7 linked regions of the Homo sapiens genome follow. The protein of the gene in region 6 purifies or fractionates together with the protein of the main gene of each other region. This does not show direct contact. Each region holds a gene or a part of one and is shown on either strand. Other genes may lie near its edges.

Region 1 (4,007 bases), on a different chromosome or scaffold from region 6:
AAATAAATAATTTGACTTACATTAGGTAAGCTCTGATTTTAACAGCACCTTTGGGGTGGCTTTACAGCACCTAGGATGGCCTTGTGTTCAAGGCAACCTCTACATCCCTCCTTTCCAACCTCCTCAAGCTAATGAAAGGACAGTCTGGGACTATTTGCACATGATGAGTTTCCTAATTTGGTATTCCTGGCCATATAAGCAGCAGATTTTTCCCAGCCATCAGACCTCCTTTAATAATAAGGCATCGTGCCTTATTGTTACTGGTTGAACTGTATCCCCCTCCCAGACACTTAAATTCATATTGAAGTCCTAACCCTCACCACCTTATTTGGAGATAAGGCCTTTACAGATGTTATCAAGTTAAAATAAGGTCATGAGGGTGGACCTTTATCCGATAAAAGTGGTATCCTTAGAAAAAGGGGAAATTCTGAGACACACACATGAGAGAACATCGTATGAACAGGAGAATGGCCATCTCCAAGCCAAGGAGACAGAGCTAGAATAGATCCTTTCTTACAGCCCTCAGAAGGAACCAACCCTGTCCACATGTTGATCTTACATTTCTAGCCTCCAGAACTGTGAGAAAATATATGTCTGTTGTAAGCCACCCAGTCAGTGGTGCTCTGTTCTGGAAGCCCTAGCAGACTAATCTAATTACGTTTCTACACTGTGGCCAAGGCATGCCCACATCTGGGCATCATTTTTTGAAATATCCTAATAATCCCATGAAGAAGGCAGGATATTATATATATTTTAATAGGTGAGGAAACTGAGGTTTAAAGAAATTAGGCAACTAGGTAACTCACTCCAGGTCACAGGCTTAGCAAGCAGTTAAAGCAGGAATGGAGATCAGGCTTTCTGCCTCCTTACCCATTGCCCTTTCTACTCCATTCCAGTGCGCCTCTGCCTGATCTACTGCGGTCTCTCCATGTAGGTTGGTCATGCACTTTTGCCCATAAAAGGAGTGTTGGACTGGGTTTTGCAGGGAGAGTCTGCAGTCAGTTAACAAGGTGCTGTTTGGGTTAGTCACTCCAGTTTCTATAACTACGCATGAAGTTTCTGATTAAAGGCAGGTTAAAAGCAGCTGCTCTATAAACTGTTCCTCTTAAATTCATCAATCTTAGTCTACAGTTATTCTTTAAGTGGAATCTTGCTGTTGAGTCTGTTGGAGATCAACTCTGGTACTCAGAGAAGCCCAGAGAGAGACCTGTGCTATTCTGAGTTGAGGGAAGAAATTACATCTACATATTTGCTCAGCAGCCCTCTAGCCTCTTGAAGTATATGTGTTTGCAGTGGAAAAATAGAACTTGGAATAAATATAAAGATACGAGATGGTCAGTGTGAAAAAGAAACCGAAATCTTGCAAGAAGCTCCAAATTGGAATCTTGAATAGTGTGAGGAAGGTTTCCCCCAAGCCAGGGAACCAGAAACCACAGCAGGTCTGGGAGAATATTCACATTATGCTCATTCACTCAGGCCATTTTTGGGAGAAGGTCAAAAGATTCAGACTATGACACGTATGGAGGAGCTGATCTTTCACTTGTAAAGGGTTTATTCAGATTCAAAGTCCATCCAGGTAAAAAGTTACTGGAAAGAGGGGATCTGTTTCAGATTAGGCAGAGGAACTCAATAAACTTTCTAAACCTCTAAAGTTGACCCTGACAGATCCATTGATGGTTCCCTCATTTTTCTCCAGATTCTTTTATATATTTCTGACTGATAGTTCTAGATTTGGGCCCTCCGATACCCAGAGCATTATTTTTGTTGACACCTTTATAACCAAACTTGAATTTTACGATTACCTGCTAAATCATAACAGTACTCACCATCAATTTCATCTTCATATCCTTCTCTCTCATGTATTTCTGGGATGTCCACTATAATATAAAGAAAATAAAAACAAGTTAATAACAAGTTCTATCACCATGGCTAAAAGGCAGGGAGGCAATCTTTACGAGAATGACTCCCCATTCTGGCAGGCAGCTAGAGAATCACCTCTACTTCTAGATCATTCATTATGGACATTACTGGATTGTTCTCCTTCAGATGACCTGTGTCTTCCTCCAACCACAACCAGTAACACAGAACTAAGAAGAAACTCTGGGTCTTCAGTGCCAAGCAACCCCTGCCACTGTGCCTTTTTAATGACTGGCATTCATTAGGAACACAGGTTTCATTTAAGGCACCTTCAATGGCATCTTATGCCCAACAGCAGCTGCCTTTACTGGGATGTCCATTTAGTGTATCATGCTGCACCTCTTCATAGGCACGCATCTCAGTGGGCACAAAAGCATCAGAGTCTTTCTCCTCTGGATTTCATGTAAACATATGGTAGTTTAAGGAAGTCTTGTTTCATCATTATATGTTTTAATTTAAGAGCAGAAATGGAAGGCATGTCATAATGCCTGTTGACCTTCACATATCTGTGCTAATATTTCTCATCCTTCCCAAGTCTATTTTTCCTATTAGCTTTCTTCGTGGTTTAGAATAGATCAAAGATGGGCATCCAATCTGACTAGCCAGGCTAAGTTAATTTACTATGAGTTTTCTCCAGTATTATCACTGTCTATCTTTTTCTTTTTCATGATAATTTGGGAGGGTGATAATACAGGTCTCTCTATTCACTGTGCTGTCCAACTTATAGAAATCAGAACCACTGAAAGTTATCTGTCTAAAATGGTAAAACATTAATAGAGAACATCAAATGCATGGCAAAGAGCAACATCTTATCATTTCTTCCTATCTCACAAGCTAATTATGCCTTTCCAAGCTGTCAGCTCAAGACAGCCCCAGTGAATGTGTATGGCCCTCTCAGAGTTTTGTTCCACCAAGTCAGATAAACAATCTTGAAGTCACTACTATAAATTGAAATCCAAAAATCAAGGCTTAAAAGAAAATCAAAATCCCAAACGGCTGAAGTATCAGACAAGAGGGAGAAAAAGAACTTTAGACCATCCCGAAAGCTTCCTTCATCAGCACTACATCTCGGGGAAGATCTACTTGACCATGATCTGAACTGAGCATTGATCCATCACTGTCACATTTGAAATTCAGTCTTTTCCTGGAGGCCATGGTTTCAATCATGTTAGAAGTCTTTCTCATTTCTGGCCAAAGTGCTAAAGCACATTCTCATCCCCCTCGGTCCCTAGTAAGGGATGCACAAAACAACTTGCCAAGACCCCACTTAAAAGATTGATGCCACATGGCACTAATCCTCCATAACTCCAGCCCATTCCTTGCATGTTTAAAGCACAGCAAGTGGCACCTGCAGGCCACGCCAGCCTCCCCACCTCAACGCCCATTCCCTGCATTCTCCTCCAGGCCCCAACAGAGCAGGTTGTTTCCTTGGAAGGGAGATGTGAACATGAATCAACAAGAGGAAGGTGGTGTTTGTCACAGGGATCAAATCGAGCTTGTGAAAGTCAACCCACAGGGTTTTTTTCCATATGAAAAAAAAAAAAAACATGGAAGAAAACCGTCACATTTCCAACAATTAATTGGTTTGATGGGCTGCTCATATGTCTTAACATCTTCACCAGTAAAAGAGGCAGAACACTGGATAAGAATATGTGAATCAGCCTAGGATGAGAACCACGGGGCTCCTGCCAGTGACTTCTGGGCCAAATCCTATGCTTGCTTTTAGGGATCTTGTTTCTGCCAAGGATGTGATGAATTCTTGGAGGCTAGAATGCCATCTTGCTCCATCTCACACCCTCAGGGAAGAAGTCTTAGGATACCATAGATCACTGGCTGGAAAGGGGTGAATGTGGCATTGATCTTAAAGGAAAAAGGGTAAAATGATGCTAATGATTTTGAGAACATTTTATCACAGGAGATCACGGCCTCTTGTCTCTGGAGGTTGAGGACTGGATGAGATGATTTCCTAAGAATTGGCCCATTTCTAAGACTCAATGAAATCAATTGCCCAGATGCAGCTGAGATTTCTGCACCTGGAGAATCAAAGGCTACTTAAGGTGAAGAAGAACACTTTAGTGGCTTGACTTGGC
Region 2 (4,258 bases), on a different chromosome or scaffold from region 6:
AGCAAGATCTAAGAGCAAATGTGAGTTACCTTAATTCCCAGAGCTTAGAGTCAAGTTCCAAGCAGAGGTTGAGTAATAGGAATAAATATTCATTGTGGCCTGGATAAATGGGAACTTGGTCATTAATGAATTTGATTACAAGGAGTTAATAAAATGGCCCTGGATACAAGATAGAAAGGCACCCCTGCTTTCTTAGGAACCTGAGTCAGTAGAACCAGCTGAGAGATTGGATTAATACTGAGATGGTAATAAACTACTCACCCTGACTTTTCAATAGTCTCTTGTTTAGGAAGAATGATGGGCAGGTTAAATTCATGGATACCAGTGGTGCTGCTAGGAAGATTAAAGGATTGTAAACTCAAGAAGGCAAGCATGTGGTTAAAATAATTTCCATTCTGGTTATTCTAAAGTGTGAAATGATTGTTTTCAATCCTTACAAACAACTATAATTGCTAATTAATTACTCCCACACTCATCTTCAATGTCCATATTAACCATACAACCTTTTAACTAAATGCCACTGCAGAGATATCAACCAATTAGAGAACTATTGTTCAAAGCACAATACAGAATCACTGCAGTTGATTCAGGGAGTTCAAACTGGGAATTCAAATCAAGTCTTACCATAACTCTGATAAAGAGGTGAGGATTTGCTCATACCATAATAATTAAAGTAAACCTCTTACTTCATTAAGAACAGGCCTATTTGGGGAGAGTGAAATAGAAAGTGGGAAATTATCTAATGTCTTGGGCCAAAATTATTCACCTGAGACTATTTTTCCTTTGAAGCATTAAAATAATTGTCTTACACTTCACTTTTATATTATCAACTTAGGCAAACTTTAGTATTTCATTGTTTTTAGCCTCTCTATATGGTCTTTGTGTCTAAAATTAGTATTTTCAATACTATAGTTATGACTTAGCTTATCCCACACTGACATGACTAAACCCAAATCTTCCCTTACTGAAGATTGAGTATATCTGCATCACATATTTCACCCCATGAACCCCCGCACTGTTTTTCAAAAGGGCCGAATGATTATTAAAAGTGCAAACACTCCTGACATCTCATTCAAATTTCCACAATCCTCTACTAAGACACTGATTCTTGCAATGAGTTAGGAGTCAGTTTGGCTTTGTGGATCTGGTAGAAGCTCACCAGATTTGAGTGGGAGAGTGCCCTTTCCTTCCTTGTACCCATTTCCCCCATCCTGAACCAACATGTTTTTAGGCCCTGGATCTTTAGAAGTTTAGTCATAACTAAGGCCAACGTGAAACCATGCGTCATCCCAACTTACCATTTGCAGAAAGCTTCCATCTCCCGTTGTTCCAGCCTTCTTTTTGCAGGCCCAAACTGTCATTGCAGCTGTGGTCCCCTGAGCACCAGTCAAGGGCAGCAGCTCGGCTCTAGAAAGAGAGATGACATAAATCTAGGGAAAAGCTACTGAAGGATGAAGATATTTCCCAAACTAACATTAGCGAGAGGGTACTTAGGGCATACTGGTACTCGAGTTTGCTCCTGCCCGCCCATCTTCTGCAAAAGCTCTAGTAATTTAACCTGAAACCACAGACCCGCCTCTCCGTCCTTTTTCCTGTTTCCCTACACTATGCAAACAGTACCTCTTTTAGCTGGCCCTCCATGCCATCACCCAAAAGGTCACGTACCGGCCAACCCTAAGGCATCTTCCAAATGACTCTCACTGTAACGTTCACCATCCGCTGTCCCAGATTCGAAACCTACCCTGCACGGCAATCCGCAAGCACTAACCGTGGTTGGTGGCTAGAATATGAGTAAGGATCACCGGGAGGAAGGGATTCCTCCCTCCAAATGGACGACTGAATCTTCTCTCCCCCACGCCCCACCCCAGCACCACCAGACGAACCCCATTTACCATCTCTCAAAGCGCAAAAATATTTAAAGCAATATTTAAAATACTTTAAGTGCGCCCCGTTTCCTCCTGCCACCCGTCCCAAAGCCCACACAGTCTTTCTCAAAAATGTGGATATTCAGGTTAACCTGCGATTTTGTTCGAAAGTGGCTAAACTGCATTATCCGAATAATTTACTTTTCCACTCCTTGGGTATAACTAAAATGCAGTTGGACAGAAAAGAGCTTGCAGTTGTCCAAAGTCATTCCGGCTCCAAAGGGCGAATTCTCTTTTCGCCATCTCTCCCAGCCCTGGAACAGCTTAGGGTCCCTCTCGAAGAGCACAGCGCCAGCCCAGACCCCATACACCCACCGTCCCTGGCACCCGAACGCGCTGCGAGCCCCGGGCCTCCCACAGGAGCGGAGACGCGGGTCCCTGCGCCTCACGCCGGAACGGACCCGTCAGAGCCGCCGAGCCCCGCACCTGGAAGCTGGGAGGCCGCGAGGACGGAGAATCGAGGCGGAGACCCAGCCCAGCGCCCGCGCAGCTCGGTGCCCTCCCGCCAGTGCCCGCACTCGGGTCACACCGCTTGCTCTCGGGAGAAGCCCCAAGGCTCGCGGTGCACCGAGAGGCGCCCGGGCTGGAGCGCCCCGGCCGTGTTGGCCACGGAGTTCTTCAGCTGCTTGATGACCACGAAGAGCAGGAGGAAAAGTAAGAAGAGCAGGAAGAAGAAGAGCGCCAGGTAGAGCAGCAAGTTGAGTTCCCACTCCATGCTGGAGGCGCCGGCGCTCGCTGGCCCTGCGCGCTCGGCGCGGGCTGCAGCTGGAGGGCGAGCGCGCCGCCCGCACACCCACCTCCCGCACTCCCGCCCCTCGCGAGGGCGTCCCGCTATGGGCGCCGACTCCGGGGTCCGTGCTTTGCCTCCCCCGGCTCCGAGGAAACGCGCCAAGGAGCTGAGGAAATCCGGCGCAGACTCTCCCAGCTGGCACCAAAGCCTTCCGCTTCGCCGAGATCCTCTCAGGTGCTCTTGAGGACGCGAGCGACTTCCCTAGGAGCGAACTTCCGCGGGCACGGACGCCAGAAGAGGTAACAGCTCAGTCTTCCAGGGGAGGTCGGGACTGGTGTTTTGTAAATGATTTAAAAGTTCCACCCCCAACATCCAGTAGGGTCCCTAGCTCCGCTGCGTTCCCAATTAATTTATTTCGTTATATCCCTCCGTTCCTGCTTTCCGAAAGGACAGGGGATGTCATGGCCCAGAGACCCAAAAGAATGAAAGGTGGCAGTGAAGATGGGGTCTGAAAGGCTATGAGATGATTTCGTGCTATGAGGTGTCTGAGTGAATTCCAGTTCGAGCTGTCTTGCTCTTCAGAGTAGCAGATACATTCAGTGTTGAGTGTACTTTTCTATGGACAACAGGTCACTTGGAAACGCATTAAGAATACAATGTATTTCAGAAGTTATATAGCACAAAGATTTCAAATATTGGCCTCAAATTCAGTTTATTTGGTGAAAAGAGGAAAACAAGTTTACTCAAAGTGTTTCTTGAGTCCCTAAAGCCTTTCTGTATCTGGTTGACGTGACCCAAAGCCCATATCGCGCAGCTTTAAAAGCTGTTCAGTGTATCTATTACTGCAGAACAAATTACCCCCAAATTTAGTGGCTTCAAACAGCATAAACATTGATCATCTCTCACAGTTTCTGTGGGTCCGAAATGTGGGAGCACTGGCTGGGTGATTCTGGTGTCGGGTTACTCATGAGGCTCCGTTCAGATGTCAGCCAGGTCTGCCTTCAGCTGAATGCTTGTGTAGAGGTGGAGGATCCACTTCCAGGGTGGCTCACTCACTGCTTGCCAGGTAGGGCTGGTTGTTGGTGGGAGGCCTCAGTTCCCTTCCATGGGTGCTTCCAATACAGCTGCGGGATTCCCCCAGAACAAGTGATGAAAGAAAACAAAGCAGAGGCTGCAGTGCTCTTTACCGCCAGCTTCAGAAGTCACGTGCCATCAGATCTGTAATATCCTACTGGTCACACAGGTCAGCCCTATTCAGGGTAGGAGTCCAAGGACACGAACGCCAAGGAGTAAGGATCACTGGGGCTCATCTTAGAGTCGGCTATGACAGCTGTTAATACAGCCAGCTATCATTGCCCATTTGTAGGCCTAACTTTATTTTATTCTTTATTTGTGAAGATGCAGAATTGCCTCCTGGACTGAATTCTGGGGATGAGGGCTGACAACATCCCAGATTGTAATAAGTGGCTGCTCCAGGGATGACAGGGGTTCAAAGAGACAGGGTGGTATGAAAACAGTCTGTGAACTGCAAGTCTCATGGACCCGATTCTAGTGTCAGCTCTGTCAGTGGTCACTTTTGCTCAGTGACTCTCAGTCCCCTCAT
Region 3 (4,007 bases), on a different chromosome or scaffold from region 6:
CTCCATGGGGACAGAAGCCCCTGTGCTCAGGACCCTTCTAGACCACGCCCTATGTGCCCCTTCATCTGAATGTTCATTTTTATCCTTTAAAACATCCTTCGTCATAAATCAGCAACAGCAAGTAAACTGTCTCCCTGGCTTCCATCAGCTGCTCTAGCAAATTATTTAACCCAAGGAGAGAGTCATGAGAATCTCTATCTTGTAGCCAAGTGGGACAGAAGCGTGGGTAAGCTGGGGACCTATGGACTTGCAACTGGTGTTTGAAGTCGGGGCAGGATCGTGGGACTGAGCCCTTGACCTGTGGGGTCTGCGCTAACGCCAGGTAGTGTCAGAATTGAATTGAACCGTAGGACACCCAGCTGGTGTCAGAGAATTGGTCAGTGGGGGAAAAACCCACACATCTTATCCCAGAAGTGTGGAGTGAGTAGGGAGAAAAACAGTTTGGTTTTTCCCTATAGAACCCTCATACATCAAAATGAATGAATGTAACTAGATCAATCACTCATCATAATTTCCAACAATTTGTCAGAGAACAGCCATATAATTAAGTTATCCTCTATTGATTTTTCTTTTCAAAACCAACCTGCCTTTCCCTGAGGAAGAAAGATCCATTCAGAGGCCCCACATGGCTCTCAGAAGCCGATCTGGCTTCAACCGCAAGCAAGCTCTCGCCTAGAGGACCTGTAAGGACGTTTCTCACTCAGCCCTTGCCAAGCCTGGACAGGGTGCCAGGATTTCCTCTTTCTCGCTAGGTTGCCCGGTAGGATCTCTGTCTTTTGAGCATGAGAAAGCAACAGGGCAGGCTGATGTCCCCTCCCCGTTCCCACCCATGGGCAGAAGGCAGTGCTGTTCAGTCATTGCCCAGCGTGGGCAGAAAGGGCTCTGCTGCAGGCTCCCCACCACCATGGGGCTGCTCAGAGCAGGGGCTACCATATCAGGCAGAGACCAAAGCAACAACTGAAGGTGTCTTTGTCCAAGCTGGTTGCCAGCAAGAGGTAATCAAATACTGGTTGCCAGCAAGAGGTAATCAAATATACATTTGTATCACAAAGGCCTGAATTCTGAAGGTGACACAGAAGTTCCGCTTTTGCAAGGTATTGCCCCTGGGCTTGATCCTCCAAGTTGGAGCAGAGGGCAGGACCTTTCCTTGAGAAAGGACACACCCTGAGCAGCTCCGTAAGGTCAGGTGCAGCAGGATCCCAGCTCTGCAGGAAAAATCCCCTATAGAATCACACCTTGGCACAAAACAGAAATACACACTCCCAGTTTATGTGAATAGAGCTCCAGACTTCTCTGCCCTGAGCAAATTCCTGATGTTCCTAAGATAATGCAGAAAAAAGCCAACCACTTAGAGCTCCAAGGCAAGGCAGCCTGGCTCACCTCTTTCTCAGGATATTCTGTTTTAATCTCTGCTGCCATCTCCACTCCAGCCGAGCCTCCTCCCACCACCACGATGAACCGTGAGCGCTGGACCTGGAGAAGAGGACATGTGAAACAGGGACATATGAAACACACCTACACATCCACCTCTGTCTGCTGGTTCAGCCTGTGGTGTGGCTCCCTGGGCCAAAGGAGGGCAGAGAACCCTTTCCACATTTTGAGTCCAAACGTGCTTCCTCCCACCCACCTCGCAGAATTGCTGTGGAAGATTGTGGATCTAAGCCTGCTCTACAAAACAGAGCCTTATGAAAACAGGAGTGGAAGGGACCCGTGAAAAGCCCCAGGAGAGGAAAGTCAGAGACATACCAAGGGCAACATGAGCAGGTTTAGGGTGCTCACATCCTGGCTCCAGCAGCAAGTTCAAGGTCTCTTCCCAGGAAAGTCTCTTCCTAGTGACTCTCCAACTCTATGGCTACAGCCAGCAGCTCTGAGTAACCCCGTGGCCTCCCAGCTGCAGGCCTAGGCATCCCCAAGGCTGTCCTTCCATCTGCCCACACTGCCCCATGCCTTCAGTGCACAGCTCACCTGCCTCACCATGTCCTCATAGGCCTGGATAGCGGCCTGCTGGCTGGAAACCTCATTAAACTTGCCCGGGAAGGGCCCAGTGCTGCCCGTGGCCAGGATAAGATGAGAGAAGGGCAGGGCCTGAGAGAAACCAAAAAAAAAAAAAAAAAAAAAAAAAAAAAGATGAGGGTAGGGCAGGGCAGGGCAGGCCTAGGCCTCTGCATCCTACTCCCGGCCTGCCAGCCGGGACAAACCAGGCAAAGAGGCCCCTCTAGGCACCCGAGGCAGCCCCCATGGGAGGGGGTGAAACCACCACACTGGTTAGCCCAAAGGATGGCACTAGAACCTGGGGAAAGACCTAAGGAAGTAGAGTTTACCTCCGCGTGGAGAATGTGGGGGCAACTGGAGCCACCCAGCATGGCAGTGGGAGGGGTGCCTGGAAGCAGGAGGCAGGGCTGCAGGATAGGACACTGCCCACGGGAGTTAGCTCAGAACCTCCCGGGTGTTTTAGAAGAACCCTCCTCCTGCCTCCGCCAGGAAGAAAAGAAAGGGAAAGAAAGAAAGACTGATCAGTAGTGGCATCACATCTGTGAACAGCCACTGCACTGAGCAACATACCAAGACCCCATATTAATTTAATTTTTAAATTAAAAATAAATAATAAAATAATTTAATTTTTATTAAATATTTTATTAAAAAATAATTTAATTTTTTTAAATTAAAAATAAAAAAAATTTTAGGCCGGGCACAGTGGCTCACACCTGTAATCCCAGCACTTTGGGAGACCAAGGCGGGCGGATCACCTGAGGTCAGGAGTTTGAAACCAACCTGATCAACATGGCAAAATCCCATCTCTACTAAAAATACAAAAATTAGCTGGGCGTGGTGCCATGCGCCTGTAATCCCAACTACTCAGGAGGCTGGGGCAGGAGGATCGCTTGAACCTGGGAGGCAGAGGTTGTGGTGACCCGAGACCATGCCATTGCACTCCAGCCTGGGCAACAAGAGCGAAACTCCATCTCAAAAACAATTAAAAAAATTTTTTTTTAATTAAAAAAATTGTAAACAAAGAAAAGGAAATCTTGTTTGGAGCCTAAATATATAAAGTTGACAAAAACAGAGCTGCTCCAATGGGAGGGGCTGGAGGGCCTGGACTCCACTCAGCCCCTACTTTCCCCTGAACCTCCAAGATGCCCTCATGGAATCTTCCAGGGCTCTGAAACGCATGGCTGGAGACTGCAGGACCAGGGGACACTCAGTAATCTTTCCAACCAGGAAACTATCTGGCCCCATTAATTCAAGAAGGGCTGGGTCACACGAAATCACAACTCATCAAGGAAAGGAATTGTGTTTCCTTTTGTCAACGCCCCCTTAGCTTCAAACACCAAATGGGGCTGGGCTGGACATGACACTCATCCAGAGCTGGTGGCAGCTTATCGATGGAGCTGAAGTCATGGCAGGTGTGTTCCAGGCTCCATGATGCACATGTGAGGTGGGGGAACACACAAATGAGTGAAGGGAAACCTCTGCCCCAGTGACGTCCCGATCCGGGGGATGTGGGACCATGCGTGTGCCTTTTTGTTCTAGACAGAGCCGAGGGCTGGCCAGGCCTGGGAGTTGTCTGGGACGCTGGCTTTTAGAGCATGGGCTCTGGGCTAAAATTGCATGGGTTCAAATCCTAGTTCAGTCTCTTACCAGCTGTGGGATCTTAAGCAAGCCATTTAACCCTTTAGCTTCTCTGTAAAATGAAGTTATACCACCTTCGCCATAGAGGCACGGTAAACATTCATGAGACTTACGTAAAGGCTACAAACAGGGCCTGGCATGCAGGAATTACACAAGAAATATCTGCCACCATATTCTTGTGGTTGCTGTGGTCAAGCCTTTGTTTATGAGGAATCCGCTATCTGCCCAGCACCAGGCAGGGCTTGGGGCTCACAGACAGCATTCTCTTTTTTTTATTTTTATTTTTTGAGATGGAGTCTCTGTCTGTCACCCAGACTGGAGTGCAGTGGTGCAATCTCAGCTTACTGGAACTTCCACCTCCGAATTCAAGCAATTCT
Region 4 (4,722 bases), on a different chromosome or scaffold from region 6:
TCTGTAAGCATTTCTCTATTCAGATCCATAATCCAAGTGCTCTCTGAATATTACAAGGTGACAATAAGTGGGAAGTGGAGGAGGAAGAGGAAAGAGAGGGGACTAAGGTTCTCCCAGTTTAAGGTTTTGTTGCAATGAGGGGATGAGGAAGTATGAAGATATTTTTGTTGTCTTTTCATCTTTATACTGTGTTAAGTAACGTTTACAACATAAATTCAGCAGGCTTTTCCTGACCTATAACTCGAAGTTTTCTTCCTGCAAACAATGTATTTACAAATGTGTTTATTAGCTTACACAGCAATCTCACAATAACTAGTGAAGATTAAAAGGGCACACTCCTAGTATATTTGTTTGCAGTGTTTCAAGGGAAATACATATTGCCATGGTGAAGCTCTAAATAGATTCAACGAAACATCTAAAAATTGAAAGTTGTTAAAAAAAAAGCAAAGAAATATCACCAAAGAAAAAAGATTAATCGTAGCTTAAATATAAAACTAAATCATTAGTTAATTAAACTATACAGATCTCATACAAACGAAAACCAGCCTGAAAGACCCAACCTTAAAAAAATGCTAAAAAATAAGGCATAAATCTGCATAATATTCAGTTTTATTTCCATTCTCTCCTTTCCCTCTACTATGTATGCTTTACCTGATCTGCCTCTAGGGGCTTACAAGAAAATGGTTTCCGGTTTCCATCTTCAATTTGACCTCAAATGTCCTGAGCAAAGTTTTTGCTCTTCTGCTGAGGGTTCTTTTGTTGGTAAGCTTTAGATATCGTTATTTCTGCTAATTCAGTAGTTTTGATCGTAGTGCCAAATTTAAATTCTTCCACTGGTTCTTCTGTAAGGAATTAAACTTTTATGGTGTCTTGCCTGCATAGTATTATTTTTTAAAAAAAGAAAACCCAAGCAAAATCTATTGCTTAAAGAGGTTTCTTATTTTTTAAACAAACAGAATAACTCTTGACAATTTTAAAACCTTGGGAGAAATAGTTCATTAGAACGTCATTATCTTACCATGAAGAATTAAATACTAAAAACCTGTTCTGAAGCACTTGGTTAATTTTCTCTCCCAGAGTCTAATAAAGCACATGTGAAAGGACCATTTGTTTTAGTCAGAAATACATTTTATGTTCTGCTACTTATAAGTACTCAGTATGTTCTTTAGGACTCATTTTGAAGATGCACCAGGAGGCTTTTCTCATTCAAGCACTGCCTACCGTGATCGCTGAATTCTGACCTCAAAGAGGATCTAAGTAATTTATATCAGTGCTCAAGAATAATTCTGGACATCTTGGTCCACAGCCTACAGCAAGTGGTATCTGTAAAATTAAAGGATAATTCCAGTGGGCTTGGTCGGACTGCTGCTTTGCCATCTCTTGTTTGTTTTGAGGAAGTGGGGGGAGGCTAGGTAAGAACACGGAAATAGGGAACGGGGTAAGGGAGAGGTGAGAAGAGCAAGGAGAGATAAAGCAGGCTGTGAACATACTGCTCGTTAACCAAGCCATACTCATACTGTTGAGATTTCCATCATTTTGAAGTACATTATCATAACATTAAAAAAGAAAAAAAATGTTAAGAAAATGTATCTAATTTTTAAAGTTATCACTGGAATACGCTGAAATAGTTTGGCTTTTTGTAAAATATAAATAATGAAGACGCTGACTTTTTTTGTGCTTGTCAAGCTAATAGATCATCTCCACGAGACAGGCAGCAATGATGAATTGCAAAACGTTATTAATGAAGGGAAAAGGTTCAAGCCAATATTCACACTGCAGTCAATGAAAGAGTAAGGGGGCTTCTGAGGAAGGGTTGAAGATGACATGGGAGAGTAGCAGGAACAACCCCCTTCGCTGACTGTTTGCTCCTGAGGCTTTTCCAGTTTTATGTCACTCATGTCTTCTCTGCTTCCGTCCTGTGTGCTTTCCATTCCCGGCAAAGCTGCTGCTACACGTCGAAAGAGCTGCTTTACATTGTATCCAGCTTTTGCCCTAGTTTCAATAAACGTAACATTCAGCCCTTTGGCTTTCCTCTCTCCCTCCTCAATTGACACTTGCCTCTTGTCAGCAAGATCTGTTTTATTTCCTACTAGCGTGATGATAACATCACTTCCTCCTTCTGTTCTGACATCATCAATCCACTTTGTAGTTTGCTGGAATGAGTTAACATTTGTGATATCGTAAACTACTACAGCTGCAGCAGAATCACGGATGTACCTGGGAATGAGGCTACGGAGACGTTCCTGACCCGCCGTATCCCACAGCCGAAGCCCGATTGTTCCATCCTCCAAGTACATAGTTTTTGATAAAAAGTCAATGCCAATTATTGCCTGATAGGTGTTGTCAAAACTGTCATACCTGAATCTGGTGATCAAAGATGTCTTTGCAACGCTTTGCTCCCCCAGGAACACCAGCTTGAATTTCCTCAGCGGATTCCCGAAGTCTCCGCCCGCGGACATGGTGGAACTAGAGGAGCTGTCGCCGCCTCAGCCCAGAGACCTCCCGGACCGATGCTGCTCCAGCCGGCTGACGAAAAAGGCGAGCGGAAGGGCGGGCGCCGAGCTCTCTGCGCCCCTGCAAGGGCCGGTGGAGGAGCCCGGCTGGAGGGCAGCAGGACTCTCCACAGACTGGCAGCCGCCGCCGCCTCCCGGCAGAGTAGCCGAGCACCGAGCGAGGCCCGCGGCTGGGAAGGGAAGGAGGGCGGTGTCGGCAGGAGCCAGGGGTGTGCTTTGGCTTCCCAAGGCTAGGGCCGTTCCCTTCTTCCTCACCCGGCTCCAAGACCTGCGGGAGAAAGGCGGAGGGTGGCGGAGCCGGAACCGCAGACGTATCTGGGATCTCTCACGCGCGGCGCTTCGGCTTCCCCAGCCGCCGCCGCCGCAGCCCAACCTGCTGAGTGCGCGAGCCTCTGGCGCGGGGCGAGCCAGGGCGCCTCCACACATTTTTTTAAATACACAAAACATATGTACTAAAAACAATGGGGCGGTGAAAACAAAATATTGCAAACTAGAAAAAAGACAAAATTGACATTTTAAAGACTTTATTATGTATTATTAAATATATATTAAACAGAAATGTTATAAAATTTAGCGTCCCTATCTCCCAGTTTCTGTGAGAGGTCAGAAACTTAACTTTCCTAAGCCACAATTAAGCAAACACATCTGGCCTAATCACATGGACCAACCTGTCTCCTAACATCATGCAGGAAGTTTCAGGAGCTCCTGCAAAACTCTCCCGCCTTGCATTTGAACAGATATGTCAACTGATACAATTACACAAGAATTGTATCAAGATATTAGACTGAATCTCACAATCACACTCAGCCTGATTATTAACCCTTCTCCTGCATCTTGCTCACCTAAATGTATCTGCATTTTCTATGAAGTGAATAGCTTAGAAATGTATGTCGTCCATGTATTATAGTGTAAGTTATTGTAGTATAGAAATATGGACTTTCTTTAACTCCCATTTTCTGCCTAGGAAATACCAATTTTTTTAGTATGGCAAGTGTTTCCAAGCATTGAGAAGTGGAGAGTGTAGGATATCCACTGCAGAATGAGGTCTGCTTGTCATCCTCTTAGTCTCCACTGCTATCCCTCCCTCATCTCTCTCTGTTTCATTGATGAGTATAGAAGATCAGTCACTTTTATATGAAATGAAAATTGATGAAACTAAGGTGTTGATTTGATTATCCAACCAACCATTTATTGAGTGTTCATTATAAGTCAAATTGTGTTCTGGAGAACAGCTCAGGAAATGAATGTTTGACATCAATGTACATAACAGAAATACGAACATACCATTAAAAACTCAGACCTCTTATGACAATCCAGATTCTCATGTAAGTTTTGTGAAGCTCTTTCAAGATGACAATGTAACAATTCAAAAAAAATTATTTAAACAAGTCATTCTTGAGACAGAAAAATGGAATTACAAGATCATATATGGCTATTTCACTAGCTGAAATCTTAAGTACTGTTTTTAGTCAATTGACAGCCATATAATTCTTAGTTTTATATACTGATATTCACCAGAAATTAAAAACTTTTAAAAATATTTCTGTCTCATTCTACTAATTTTAAAATTTCATTTATTTGGTTATATTTCTTCATTTTACCTGGCCTTGAATACTTCTTTCCTGCCCAGCATTAAGTTTAATTAATGTCTAATTTGTTTACTTGGTTTAGTTACTTTTGACCATGCTTGGTACACTTGTTGTGGAGCAGGCATGTAGAAATGTTTACAGGTTTATGGTCCTCACTCTTCCAAATCCCTAACGGCGGCACCCAACAGACACATACCACAATGTAAACACATACACACACACACACCTGCACACCCATACTCACCCACCTACACACACACCCGCACACACCCATACTCACCCACCTACACACAGACACACACCGATACTCACCCACCTACACCTAGACACACCTGCACTCACCCACCCACACCCAGACTCACCCACACATACCTGTAGTCCCCAGCTACTCCCAAGGCTGAGGCGAGAGATGCTTGAATCTGGGAGACAGAAGTTGCAGTGAGCCAAGATCATGTCTCTACACTCCAGCCTGCGTGACAGAGCAAAACCCTGTCTCCAAAAAAAAAATAAATAAATAAATAAAAAATTAGACAGTTGTGGTAGCCCATGCCTGTATTCTCAGCTACTTGGGGGAGCTGAGTTGGGGGGATCACTTGAGCCCGGGAAGTCGAGGCTACAGT
Region 5 (4,007 bases), on a different chromosome or scaffold from region 6:
ATGTGGATAGTTTTAAAGTGAAATGTCACGAAAAGTCTCTAAATTAAACACAGCCATCTCCTGCCTCACTCCTCTCTGGGAGCCCTACTCTCCACAAGCGAGGTGAGTTCTCTCTTTCTGGTAACTGGGTTTCCTTTAATTAAGTCATTAAAAGAGCACATACTGCGCCCCTGTGTGCTAGACACTATTCTGGGCACAGGGGAAACAAACAGAAAACTCAAAAACCCTTACACTCATGGATCTTACAGTTTCTTTCTTCTCATTTCTACAAAAGGTTTAGGAAACTGAATTTCAGAGCTGTTTCTTCCCCGCTCTGACAGAGTCGTGAGCTCTTACAGAGCCCCTCACTTGTTCCCCTGGTCCTCCTGGAAGGGCAGTGCCATCACATACTGACTGCTGTCTTAGTCTTCCCTCACTGTCCCTCTAGACCTGTGCCATTCTGAGCTGGATCTTCCTGCTGGCTTCATTTTCCTCTTTCTGGGATCATGCCCTTGTCCTGGTGAAGTATATCCTCCTAAACTTTCTAAGAAAGTACATTTCTAAGAAGTCTCTGAGAAAGATAATCTTGGCTTCCTCCTCTTTCTTGCACATCTGTTGGTATTCAGCCTTTACTTGCACACTTACAGTTTGGCTAAGTTTAGAATTTTAGGTTGAAGAATTATTTCACCCTGAGTTTTGAAGGCAATGCTTCCATTTCTTTTAGCTTCCAATGTTGCTGTGGAAGGGTGCAAAGCAATTCCATTTTTCACACTTTATATGTGGCTGCTTTTTCCCTCTTGGAACCTTTCTGGTCTTCCTTACTTCATCTGTGGTGTTCTGAAATTTCACATGGCACGCTCTGGTCTGGACTTTTTCCTTACTATGTTTGATTTTAGGTGGGCCAATTAATCTGGAATCTCATTCCTTCAGTGAAACATTTTCTTCTATTATTCTCTCTGCTCTTCTCTCTTCTGGAACTCCTAATAGTCATTGCATCTTCTGGATTAATTCTGGAGGATTCTTTATGTCATCTCTCCCATTTTTCACCATGAGTTTATTTAACATATTATTCTGATTGCTCTTTTTAAGTATGACTTTGTTTCTATTACATACTCCAATGCAATCTCTGCTCTTCTTCCTAAGGATACTGTGGTTTTAGTGTGTTTTTCTTACTCCCTCAAAGTTCCAGCTTCTTTACTTTGAGCTCTCTCTTTTGCTATAGAAACTTTCTTCAAAATTCTGCCTGATCATTAAGAGCAAGGAATGAAAAAGTCTAAAAGAAGCTCTTTATGTGTGGGTGGAGCAGGTGGGCTTGGAGGGTTTCACTTTCAGATGACTGGATAGAGACTGGGCTGTTTGACTGGGAAAGCAAAATGTCACTACCTTCAAGCCTTTCCTTTCTGACTATTCATTTTTCTGCAGAGAAGGCTCCTTTCTCCTATGTGGGACATACACACCTGGCTGCCAGCGACCAGGGAAGAGGTAGGGGAGGTGGGTTGGGGGCCAGAGGCTTTCATTTTCACTTAATTTCCCTCTTTTCAGGCCTGACCCCATGCCCTCAGGTGGGCCTTATGACCTTGAGTCTAGACTCCATTTCAACGTAAAAGACTGAACCTCTTATTTCGTGTGTAAACATGAACCTCTGTAACCTCTACCTCCTGTAGAACCTGATGCTTCCAAATCCTGACCTTTTCTGGGACTCCAGAGGAAGAAATGGCTTCCCCCATTACAGTACTTAAGGTGGAGCTCCTTCTGCTGTCAGAGCACCATCTACTTCCTATCTTTAAGATTTTTTTGGAAATCTCTCAATCATAATTGTGCACTCACTCAATCTTGGCCTTTTTGAGTTACTTCAATTTCAGTTACTTAACAGACATTTCAGTGGGGTTCTGAGAGGGAAGACATAAATGTCTAATTGAATCCACCATGTTTAATCAATGCTTCCAGAAAAATGATGGTGATTAAAGGTGGTTATGGTATTTTTGAAGCAATTATTGAACTTCAATTACTTAATTAATTTTTGAGATGGAGTTTTGCTCTTGTTGCCCAGGCTGGAGTACAATGGCGTGATCTCAGCTCACTGCAACCTCCACCTCCCGGGTTCAAGCGATTTTCCTGCCTCAGCCTCCAGAGTAGCTGGGATTACAGGCACCTGCCACCACGCCCGGCTAATTTTTTTATTTTTAGTAGAGAAGGGGTTACACCATGTTGGCCAGGCTGGTCTTGAACTCCTGACCTCAGGTGAGGAGGTCTGCCTCGGCCTCCCAAAGTGCTGGGATTACAGGCATGCGCCATTGTGCCCAGCCAAACTTCAATTATTTAATATACGACATGTACTCAACTTCAAGTGAAATGTTTACAAATGGGGTGGATTTTATTTCACTGAATTATAAAACTATGAATATCAGTTCTGACTTTGTGCATCTGTGCAAAAACCACAACTAAAATATTAATCTATTTTCTTGCTTTAGTAGTTACAGAATACTAAACATGTAACCTCATTTGCAGTGACTGAAGTCATTCTGAGCCTCAGTTATGACCCTATTGTAATTAAAGTGTGGAGAGAATATTTTGTGGAGTGTGTATCAAACATCAGAACATGCTCTAGTTAATGTAAAACAAAACAAACCCTCACAAGGTTTTAAAAAGTTCTTCTTTAAAAAAGGAACACAGAAAAACAAGCTTGTGCTTTGATTTGAATCTAGAAACATACTGTACAATACACAGTGCCACATCCTCCTGAGAATGGGTCAGCCTCCGAATTATAATGCAGTTGCGCGGAGATCCTCCTGTATTCTTTAGTAATCCATGCTGCAGAGAGCTAACCTAAATTTTAGCTGTCTTGTCAATCAAAGTTTCCAAAAATGAAGTTTCTGAGATTAGGACAAGGAAGGGGTGTGTTGGGGAGGGAGTGAGACCTTATATATTGAGAGAATATCATCAATTATTTTAAATCAAATTTTCAAATATTTTTATTAAGTTAGAGAAAAGCTACCTGAATCGTTCTTGTCCTGCTGTATCCCATATTTGTAACTTTACATATTTACCACCAACATTTATTATCTTTGAACCAAATTCCACTCCTATTGTATGATTTGAGTCATCTTTGACTAAAAAAGAAAAACAAGAACAGCATATTTAATTTTAGAACATTAACAGGCTTATAGATTTAAACAAGTGACACTAAAACCAAGAGTTACATCAATGGGGAATGGACATTACTCTAGCCATTCATTTCTCCAACATTCCATTGAGAAGATGCATTTAGTTTTAAAGATAATACACACAGCCCCTATTCTCAAAGAGACATAAAGATTTTTCTCAAAACCCCCAAACAAATGATACATTTAAAAACCTATGCCTGAAAGTAGCCCTGCCATATCCGAACCACATCCAACTGTGCACTGTTAAGATGCTCACAGATGGTGACTGCTGACATACCAGCGTACCATTCTGAAGGGCATAACGCCCAGTGACAGGTGTGGAACTCAGTAAGTAATGAGGTGGAGACAGTTTCAACTACTGTATTTGAATGGTTAAATATTTTAAAGAAATAACAGTGAGTGGAAGGAAAAGCAGAGGAAAAGGGAAAAGGAGGAAAAAAATTGAACCAAAGAAAAAACACCCTCCAAAAAACCCCAAAACAAAGCACCCTCCAAAAAACCCCAAAATAAAACACCCTCCAACAAACCCCAAAACAATACACCCTCCAATAAACCCCAAAACAAAACCCTATGCAAGCTACAGGTGTTTGAGATTTCATTAATCGTAGTGTTCTATGGAAATGATTTGGGATGAATTTGTTGGAGAAATTAGTACTATTTGAATGGGCAGGAGACAGGCAAAATAAGTATTTTGCTAAACCCAGCGGGAATACACTGCCTATGAAAGAACATTTCTGTGATGATAAACAGATAAGCTGAAATTGAATATCGCAGCTATACAGTCCATTGGCTAGTTTATATTTTGTAACTGCAGAACAAAATTTAATTGTTTCAGAGATCAGGGATGCCACTGGCAACTGGATT
Region 6 (4,007 bases):
TTTAAACTACCATGCTCGCTATACTAGTTGTAAAAACAGACTGGTAAAGTCAGTTCACTCTGAAGTTGCCAGTGTCCTTCCAGGGTCTTTTTTTTTTTTCCTTTTTTTAAATTTCAGAGACACAGTCTCACTCTGTCTCCCAGGCTGGAATGCAGTGGCATAATTATAGCTCACTGCAACCTGAAACTCCTGAGCTCAAGTGATCCTCTTACCTCAGCCTCCTGAGTAGCTGGGACTACAGAGGCACACCGCCACCATGCCCGGCATTTTAAGTGAAATACTTTAAGACACGTTTGACCCTAAAGTATCACACTCACAGCATTGATCCCAGAGAGCTGCTGAGAGAGCTGGAGCACAATGGAAATGATGATGGGCTGTCGGTAGCTGGACACTCTAAAGAGCTCTAGCACGGTGACTTGCTTTTCTTGTGACATCCTTGCACTCTCATCTTTCATCTCCTGGATGTCTTGGGATACATCCTGGGTGCCCCACAACCGCTGGAGGACTGGTGAAAAGAAGAAAGAGGAAAGGATAAAAGAGAATGTGCTGCCCCAAATTCATTCTTCCTGTAAGGCAGCCAGGAAAGGGCCGCACGAGGTGAGGTGATGGGTAGCATCCATTCCTTTTTTTTTTTTTGAGACAGAGTTTCACTTTTGTTGCCCAGGCTGGAGTGCAATGGCATGATCTCAGCTCCCTGCAACCTCCACTTCCCGGGTTCACACGATTCTCCTGCCTCAGCCTCCCAAGTAGCTGGGATTACAGGCATGCGCCCCCATGCCCGGCTAATTTTGTATTTTTAGTAGAGACAGGGTTTCTCCATGTTGTTTCAGGCAGGTCTTGAACTCCTGACCTCAGGTGACCCGCCTCGGCCTCTTATAATGCTGGATTACAGGCATGAGCCATCACACCCTGCCTGATAGCATCCATTCCTAAACCCGCCTTTTCACCTCATTCTTTAGGGGCTGAAAATTTTACTCAGGAGTAATCAGAACCCTCCTCACTTGGATTCTGAGAGGCAGGGAAAGAGTGTAACAGAAAGTAGGTCCAGTACAATCATCCCTAAAACAAACCACAACCATATAATTCATGTAGTAAGGTGTGAAGGATACTCACTCTGCTTAGCATTCTCCTCTTCTTTTCTGTTAATGAGCAAAAATCTGGGACTTTCAGGGCAAAATGGAAGGGCTGCACTTTGTAGGATAGCAGGAAGGATGGTAAAACCCAGTAGCAGCGGCCATAGCTCTTCAGACCCAAGGATGAATTCCAGACCAAAGATCTAGAAACCACACAAAGATAATGCTATAAACCCCATACTTCACAGGCCACAAGTTCATTAAAACACAAAAAGTTCAGAAAATCATACATTCTTTTACCATGTGAAAAAATAAACAAATTGTGTTTCTTTTCCTTTCTCTACTCAGCATGGTTTTTTTTTTTTTTTTTTTTTTGAGACGGAGTCTTGCTCTGTCACCCAGGCTGGAGATCAGTGGCACAATCTCGGCTCACTGCAAACTCTGCCTACCGGGTTCACGCCATTCTCCCGCCTCAGCCTCCGGAGTAGCTGGGACTACAGGTGCCCGCTACCACGCCCGACCAATTTTTTGTGTTTTTAGTAGAGATGGGGTTTCACCATGTTAGCCAGGCTGGTCTTCATCTGCTGACCTCGTGATCTGCCCACCTCGGCCTCCCAAAGTGCTGGGATTACAGGCGTGAGCCACAGCGCCCGGCCTCAGCCTGCTTCTTCAGCTACTATCTATTATCTAAAACTTCCATATGTAATTGAACATGTGCCAGATATTCTTCAGTGCTTTACCTATGTTAACTTTTTTAATGACCCATGAAACTAACACTCATTAAGTATGAGAAGTTCTAGAGTACCTGGGCCACCAGAATTCCAACAACGATGCCCAGCTGGTTGAGAGTGCCAAAGGCACCCCGCAGGGCAGTAGGCGAGATCTCTCCAATGTACATGGGCACAAAACCTGTGCAGAGTCCGCAGAAGAGGCCAATAACCAAGCGACCCAGGATCAGCATTTCAACCGACTTAGCTACTTTACACAGTCCCATAAAGCAGCCACCAGTGACAGCCAACAGGTTGACAATCAGCATTGAATTGCGCCTGTAAGGTTAATCAAAGACAAAGTAGAATTAGCAAAGTGAGAGGCTCCTAACTTCTCCTCTGTCCTCATTATTCTGTTCTTCTCCAGGCTCATATCATCCCTTTTTTTTTTAATCTAACTTTTGTTTTTCACTTTCTATTATCAGAACATTTCTAGTTGGGAACCAGGTGTGATGGTGCCCGCCTGTAGTCCCAGGCACTCAGGGAGCTGAGGTCGGAGGTCGAAGCTGTAGTGAGCTATGATTGGGCCATTACACTCCAGCCCGGGTGACAGAGCAAGACCCTCTTTCTTGGGGGGTAAAAAAACAAAAGAACAACATAATCAAGTAAAACAGGTTGCTTTACCGATTTTTAAATGTGAATTCCAATTGCATTTCTAGAATATCTAATTGGCATTTTTTTTTTTTTTTTTTGGAGACGGAGTCTTGGTCTGTCACCCAGGCTGGAGTGCAGTGGCAGGATCTCGGCTCACTGCAACCTGCGCCTCCCAGGCTCAAGAGATTCTCCTGCCTCAGCTTCCAAGCAGCTGGGATTGCAGGCGCATGCCACCACGCCCGGCTAATTTTTTGTATTTTTAGTAGGGACAGGGTTTCACCGTGTTAGCCAGGATGGTCTCGATCTCCTGACCTTGTTATCTGCCCGCCTCAGCCTCCCAAAGTGCTGGGATTACAGGCGTGAGCCACGGCACCGGCTTTTTTTTTTTTGAGACGGGGTTTTGCTCTTTCGCCCAGGCTGGTGTGAAGTGGCCAGATCTCAGCTTACTGCACCCTCTGCACCCCCACTGCAGGTTCAAGTGATTTTCCTGCCTCAGCCTCCGGAGTAGCTGGAATTATAGGTGCCTGTCACTACGCCCGGCTAATTTTTGTATTTTTGGTAGAGACAGGGTTTTGCCATGTTGGCCAGGCTGGTCTCGAACTCCTGACCTCAGCTGATCCACTTGCCTCGGTTTCCCAAAGTGCTAGGATTACAGGGGTGAGCCACCACACCGTGCCTAATTGGCAAATTAAAACAGTTCCTTCATTAGTCATAAATGAAAATATATTCTACCTTCTAAAACATATTGTTAAGCTTCTATAGAATAAGACTTTTTTTTTGTCATTATCCACATTTGCCATAGACAAAAATAATTCCTACCAATCCTGGGTAAAATAATAAAAACATTTATAATACAAGTAAACAACTTCGGACCTTGTAAATTAAGTATGTTTCTAGAAACCCCATAGTTGAGTTTACTAGGGAATAATTCTGAACTATCCCTAGCTGGACTGCAAAGGCCAATCACTCACAGTTCATCTCTTGCACAGCTGGGTGGGAGCTCTCCAGGGTAGTAGAGCTCCAAGCAAGGGCAGTCATATTCGGGGCCAGTTGGACTAGGTTTCCCTTGATTAGAATTCAAGGTGTTCTTATTCAAAGGCATCATCACCTCCCTGCCCTAACTCTCCACACTTGTCCTCAATGTGGCTGGTAGAGCCCACTTCCTTGCCCAGTTTCTAGTCAATACCTGCCAAAGCGGTTGACGAAGAGTCCGACGGAAAAGGAGCCGATCATACCCCCGACGGAAAATATGGCCACAGACAAGGACCAGAGAGACGTGAGCAGCACCTCAGAGGGTGGGGCATTTCCCTTGTCCGTCAAAGTTTTATTGATAAATTCCTTTATGATCTGCAAAATAAAAGGGTTGGTGGAAGAACAGACTGTTACAGTTGGATGAGAACAAAAGACAAACATTAGGGATCATTTCCTTCCTAGAGAATCAAGGGAATAAATAGACAGGAATGGAAGGGGCAGATAACGTATTGGAATTTATGTTAACTCTCGCTGGAATAGTAATTCTATTTGTCCTGAAAATCCCAGTAGGTGGCAGCACCGATGTTCACAGTCTACCCCA
Region 7 (4,007 bases), on a different chromosome or scaffold from region 6:
GTGGAAGGATAAATGATATAAAAATAAAAAATAATCAGAACATTATATTTATTTTGGCATTTAATAAAGTGGAATAAACAAACAGCCTTTTCCCACCACTTACTTCAAAATGCATTATCAAGCAGAAATTTCATGTGTTCTTAATTTGGAGTGGTTTTGGGGTTTTGTGTAATAGTGCAATAACATGTGTAGTGTTAACCGATCTGAAAAGCTTATTAAACATACCCTCTCACTGCAGTATTCTATTCTATAGTGGCAAGAGAAGTTACTACAAGATTTACAATGTTCAGTTTACGAGTTACACACACCAAAGCTTTCTGTAAAACCCAGTTACTTGCAATATTTTTTTTTTATTTATATAAAGAATCGTAAGGGATCAACAGTGTCTGTTTTTGGCAAAGACAAATCCCTTTAAATCAATTCCCACAATGGTCATAAAAACTTTAAAAATATTCAGCCTCCCAATTCTAAGTAGTTTTTAAAAATACAAGCTACTTGGCATCACCAATTTTTCAAAAATGGTTTTCAAGCGGCTGTTAAAGTCCCAGCTATAAGCCAGGCCAGCTGGGTGCCGGCTGTTTTATGATTCTGACCACAAGAGGCCATGGAACCACAGCATATCTGCTATCTTTTCATAATCTAAAGGTGAACATTAAATTCTATTTCTTTCTCATGCGAAAATAAGACTTAAACAACAACTTCTAACTGCTAGCTTTTTCCTTGTCTTTAAAAACACAGGCTAGAAAAACCTCCAACATGAAAAATACATCTTTGTCACATCAGTATCGTGATGGAAAGTTTAAATTATCTCAGTATTTTCTATGAAGTAAAAAAAATCATTCATTCATATTTAAATGAAGAACCATTAGGTCCTAGTAGCTATCATGAAAGTACAAGGTATAATTTTATATTATTTTGATAATATGGGTTTAGATAAAAGAATCTAGCTCATTAGCTCCCATCTTGCCTATTCTGTTGTTACTTATAGCCTGATCTTTCTTATCAGTCTACAGTATTTCTGGTGATTATTAGAAGTTCAATGCTTTAATGTGGCCAAATCTGTCATAAGGAAATGATAAGTGAAAGGATCTCGGCGGCAGCTGCATGCACTTACTTAATGTTAGAAAATGACATGCAAAATGGAAGGATACATAGCATAATGGCCTGAGCTTCAATAACAGGCTGAGCATGATTAATACTCTTCCATAATTACTGTTCCTCAACCTGCTATTATTGAGGAGTTTAGAATACCCCAGTCCTGTAAATGTGGCCACTCTGGTAAAAGTAACTACTCTCTGTGTGTGCATTATTGTTATTAAGCCTTATTAATGCATTTCAAGCCTGTGTAACTTTTTGGCAAAAGAAGCCCTGAACAGCAGGGACATAATCAATAGTATTAACACACACAATTTGTAATTTGTCCAACCTAGAATCATATATTTATAGTGAATGCCTTTGGGTTACAAGATTGTGTTTTCCAAGCCATCAGAAAGTGACAGGACAGACTACCAGTAAACTGGCTAAATATAGATCCCACTGTTGAAAGGAAGGAGGAAGGGAGGGAAGGAGGAAAAGGAGGAGGAAGAGAAAAAGGAAGAACTTACTAATAATGCTGGTGTGTTGACATCGACATGACTAACAACCTGGAGTTCCCGCTTTACACTCTGATCAGGTACCTTGGGTCGTTCCAACACTGCCCGCACACAGTACTGAATGCTTCCATATTTCCCAGTAAACGAGGTGACCAAAGGTCTGAAACCAACCAAAGACATTAATTATGAGTTTACTTTTCAGTTAAACAAAGCCAAAAAAAGCATGGTTTAAAATGTTTTAGGTTGGAAATAAAAAAAGAGTAAGTCTATTTAGGGACTATTCAGTGTAAACATGCATACTTGAGAATCAGAAGAGACCTAGCAGTGATAAACTTGAATGGACATACTGCAGAGAAGGATAACCACAAAATTGTAGTGTTTCACTTACTCAGATGGAAGTTGAAAGCGAAATGGAAATTCATGTTTTCCAGGCTGTAATAAAATGATGCCTTCACCTATAAGAGATTGTATTTTATTTTAATGAAGGATAGTTAGTATTAGATCAAGAGTTTTCACAATGTAAATAATTTTTTGAAGGAAGTTTTTCTCGCTACAAAATGCAGCATACTCCAAAAGTTCATTAAACAAATGTAGAGAATTAAGTTTGAAGGGGGGTGTGTGTGCGTGTGTCTATGTGTTTTAGAGACAGGGTCTCGCTCTATTGCCCAGGCCAGAGTGCTACGGCCTTGAACTCCTGGGCTCAAGCAATCTTCCTGCCTCAGACTCCCAAGGAGCTGGGACTATATGCATGTGCCATGGTTCTTGACTAATTTTTAATAATTCTTTCCAGAGACGAGGGTCTTGCTATATTGCCCAAGCTGGTCTCGAACTCCTGGCCTCAAACGATTCTCCCACCTTGGACTCCCAAAGCACTAAGCTTATAGGGGTGAGCTACTGCACTTGGCCAGTTTTTACCAAGTACCATAACACTCACACATACATACACACATATATTCCATTCTCAAATAGACCAATTACTAAAGTGCTAAGGTTCAGAACTCCAACATACATATATATGTGTATATGGATATGTATATGTGTGTGTGTGTGTGTGTGTATGTAAAAATCACAACTGCTTACCCCCATTCTATTATACTAACGGGAAATACCAATATTAAATTGGACCAAAAACTAATTTAGCAAAAGACAGATTTATTTTGGGTATACCAGAAACATCACACTGAGTATTCTTTGAGCAGAAATGGAAAAGGGAGTGAAAACTTTATGAATATCATTAATACTGGGTATAACACAAAACAGCCAAACCCACAAGACAAGCTATTAAGCAAGTCATGTATGTATCCTTGAGCTCTCCTGACTAACACAGAGTTTCTTGGTGGCTAACTTGGAATACAGAAAGGGCTTTACCAAGCATGGCCAGGGCCCTTTTCTCAGCTTTGGGTTACCAGCTCCATTTTATTTCAGGCAGAAGCTTATCACTAGATTGTGAGAAGGCCAAAATGCAGGGTGTGGAGGGACTTTGTAAGGCCAGAGGCACCACTGAAACCTCTGATGAAGGCACCAAGACAATCTGTTTAATTCAGATCCAAAGTAGACTTCATGGCTTTCACGGTTGGTCAGGAGGCTCTCTTGAGAGACTTATACACTGTCCTTTCATTTCATGCTCAGATTTAATATTGAATTCCCTTATTGTGGATAGGATAAATAAGATGAAGAAATCGGAACACAGAGACAGAACTCTGAGATTTGCCTGGTCATCTGACACTAAAATGAAGATTTCTACTTTATCCATTCACTAAAAAAAAAAATTTAAAGAAATCAGTAGTGAAATGGGAATTTTTTATCCCTTAAATAAAAAAATAGAGTTTTATTTTATGACCTTAACCAAGTCAGCTGACATTTCAACTTCGTACTTTTAGAAAATAGGAACACATTACTGACCTATTAGGTCTTCTGAATCTATCCCCAATTTTTAATGTGTTAACATCAAGGGGGATAAAAAAGTGACACACCTGCCACTTAAGTCAATTTGAATACTCCACAGTTGGGTGACTGGAGGCAAAGTGAAGAACAAGTCACAGGGGCATGAGATCATGTTAAATTCAGTGGCAGGGCGGGTCCCAGTGGCTGACGTGTGCTCAGGAAGGTAGCAGCAGAGCAGGGACCAGGGAAGCATCTCGACCTGACAGCTGTGGAGTGAAAGGCTCAAGGCAATCCCAGTGCTCCTAAAAGAGCTGGGCTAAAGTTCTAATTTGAAATTACTAGATTACAGAACATGACGAAGTATTTACAAATGTTTTGAAATGTGTATTTCATTTGAGTTTAAAATGTGTAGTGCTTAGATTTCAGGCACCGCAGATAATCCTCAAAGAGACCGGGGGAGGAAAGGAGATTACATGCTTGTACACAAGCAATGACCATGGAGTGCTAGAACCTAGAGCACCCACATAGGAA

Evidence for each region.
Region 1: the proteins of SLC2A3 (region 6) and NRP2 purify together in Homo sapiens (affinity purification with mass spectrometry; one large-scale study listed by BioGRID and IntAct). This does not show direct contact.
Region 2: the proteins of SLC2A3 (region 6) and SMIM43 purify together in Homo sapiens (co-immunoprecipitation; one study listed by IntAct). This does not show direct contact.
Region 3: the proteins of SLC2A3 (region 6) and AIFM2 purify together in Homo sapiens (affinity purification with mass spectrometry; one large-scale study listed by BioGRID and IntAct). This does not show direct contact.
Region 4: the proteins of SLC2A3 (region 6) and RAB6D purify together in Homo sapiens (affinity purification with mass spectrometry; one large-scale study listed by BioGRID and IntAct). This does not show direct contact.
Region 5: the proteins of SLC2A3 (region 6) and RAB4A purify together in Homo sapiens (affinity purification with mass spectrometry; one large-scale study listed by BioGRID and IntAct). This does not show direct contact.
Region 7: the proteins of SLC2A3 (region 6) and ARRDC4 purify together in Homo sapiens (affinity purification with mass spectrometry; one large-scale study listed by BioGRID and IntAct). This does not show direct contact.

Annotation. Positions count from the first base shown.
Region 1 is NC_000002.12:205,790,105-205,794,111, reverse strand, and holds part of NRP2 (neuropilin-2 isoform 2 precursor), read right to left. Parts: exon of another isoform or gene 2,578-4,007; intron 1,878-2,577; coding exon 1,827-1,877; intron 1-1,826.
Region 2 is NC_000004.12:121,762,466-121,766,723, forward strand, and holds the start of SMIM43 (small integral membrane protein 43), read right to left. Parts: upstream 2,700-4,258; 5' UTR 2,641-2,699; coding exon 2,449-2,640; 3' UTR 2,352-2,448; exon of another isoform or gene 2,120-2,351; intron 1,408-2,119; 3' UTR 1,299-1,407; intron 334-1,298; 3' UTR 262-333; intron 1-261. UniProt on the Homo sapiens protein: Required for mesendoderm differentiation. Interacts with glucose transporters and promotes glucose uptake. Probably augments the glucose uptake capacity of glucose transporter proteins to meet the energy needs of mesendoderm differentiation.
Region 3 is NC_000010.11:70,119,127-70,123,133, forward strand, and holds part of AIFM2 (ferroptosis suppressor protein 1), read right to left. Parts: intron 2,086-4,007; coding exon 1,966-2,085; intron 1,474-1,965; coding exon 1,381-1,473; intron 1-1,380. UniProt on the Homo sapiens protein: A NAD(P)H-dependent oxidoreductase that acts as a key inhibitor of ferroptosis.
Region 4 is NC_000002.12:131,361,262-131,365,983, forward strand, and holds the start of RAB6D (ras-related protein Rab-6D), read right to left. Parts: upstream 2,908-4,722; 5' UTR 2,460-2,907; coding exon 1,695-2,459; 3' UTR 1-1,694.
Region 5 is NC_000001.11:229,287,811-229,291,817, reverse strand, and holds part of RAB4A (ras-related protein Rab-4A), read right to left. Parts: intron 3,090-4,007; coding exon 2,975-3,089; intron 1-2,974. UniProt on the Homo sapiens protein: The small GTPases Rab are key regulators of intracellular membrane trafficking, from the formation of transport vesicles to their fusion with membranes.
Region 6 is NC_000012.12:7,929,367-7,933,373, forward strand, and holds part of SLC2A3 (solute carrier family 2, facilitated glucose transporter member 3), read right to left. Parts: intron 3,782-4,007; coding exon 3,621-3,781; intron 2,120-3,620; coding exon 1,879-2,119; intron 1,277-1,878; coding exon 1,114-1,276; intron 506-1,113; coding exon 318-505; intron 1-317. UniProt on the Homo sapiens protein: Facilitative glucose transporter. Can also mediate the uptake of various other monosaccharides across the cell membrane. Mediates the uptake of glucose, 2-deoxyglucose, galactose, mannose, xylose and fucose, and probably also dehydroascorbate.
Region 7 is NC_000015.10:97,963,640-97,967,646, reverse strand, and holds part of ARRDC4 (arrestin domain-containing protein 4), read right to left. Parts: intron 2,048-4,007; coding exon 1,981-2,047; intron 1,753-1,980; coding exon 1,605-1,752; intron 1-1,604. UniProt on the Homo sapiens protein: Functions as an adapter recruiting ubiquitin-protein ligases to their specific substrates. Plays a role in endocytosis of activated G protein-coupled receptors (GPCRs).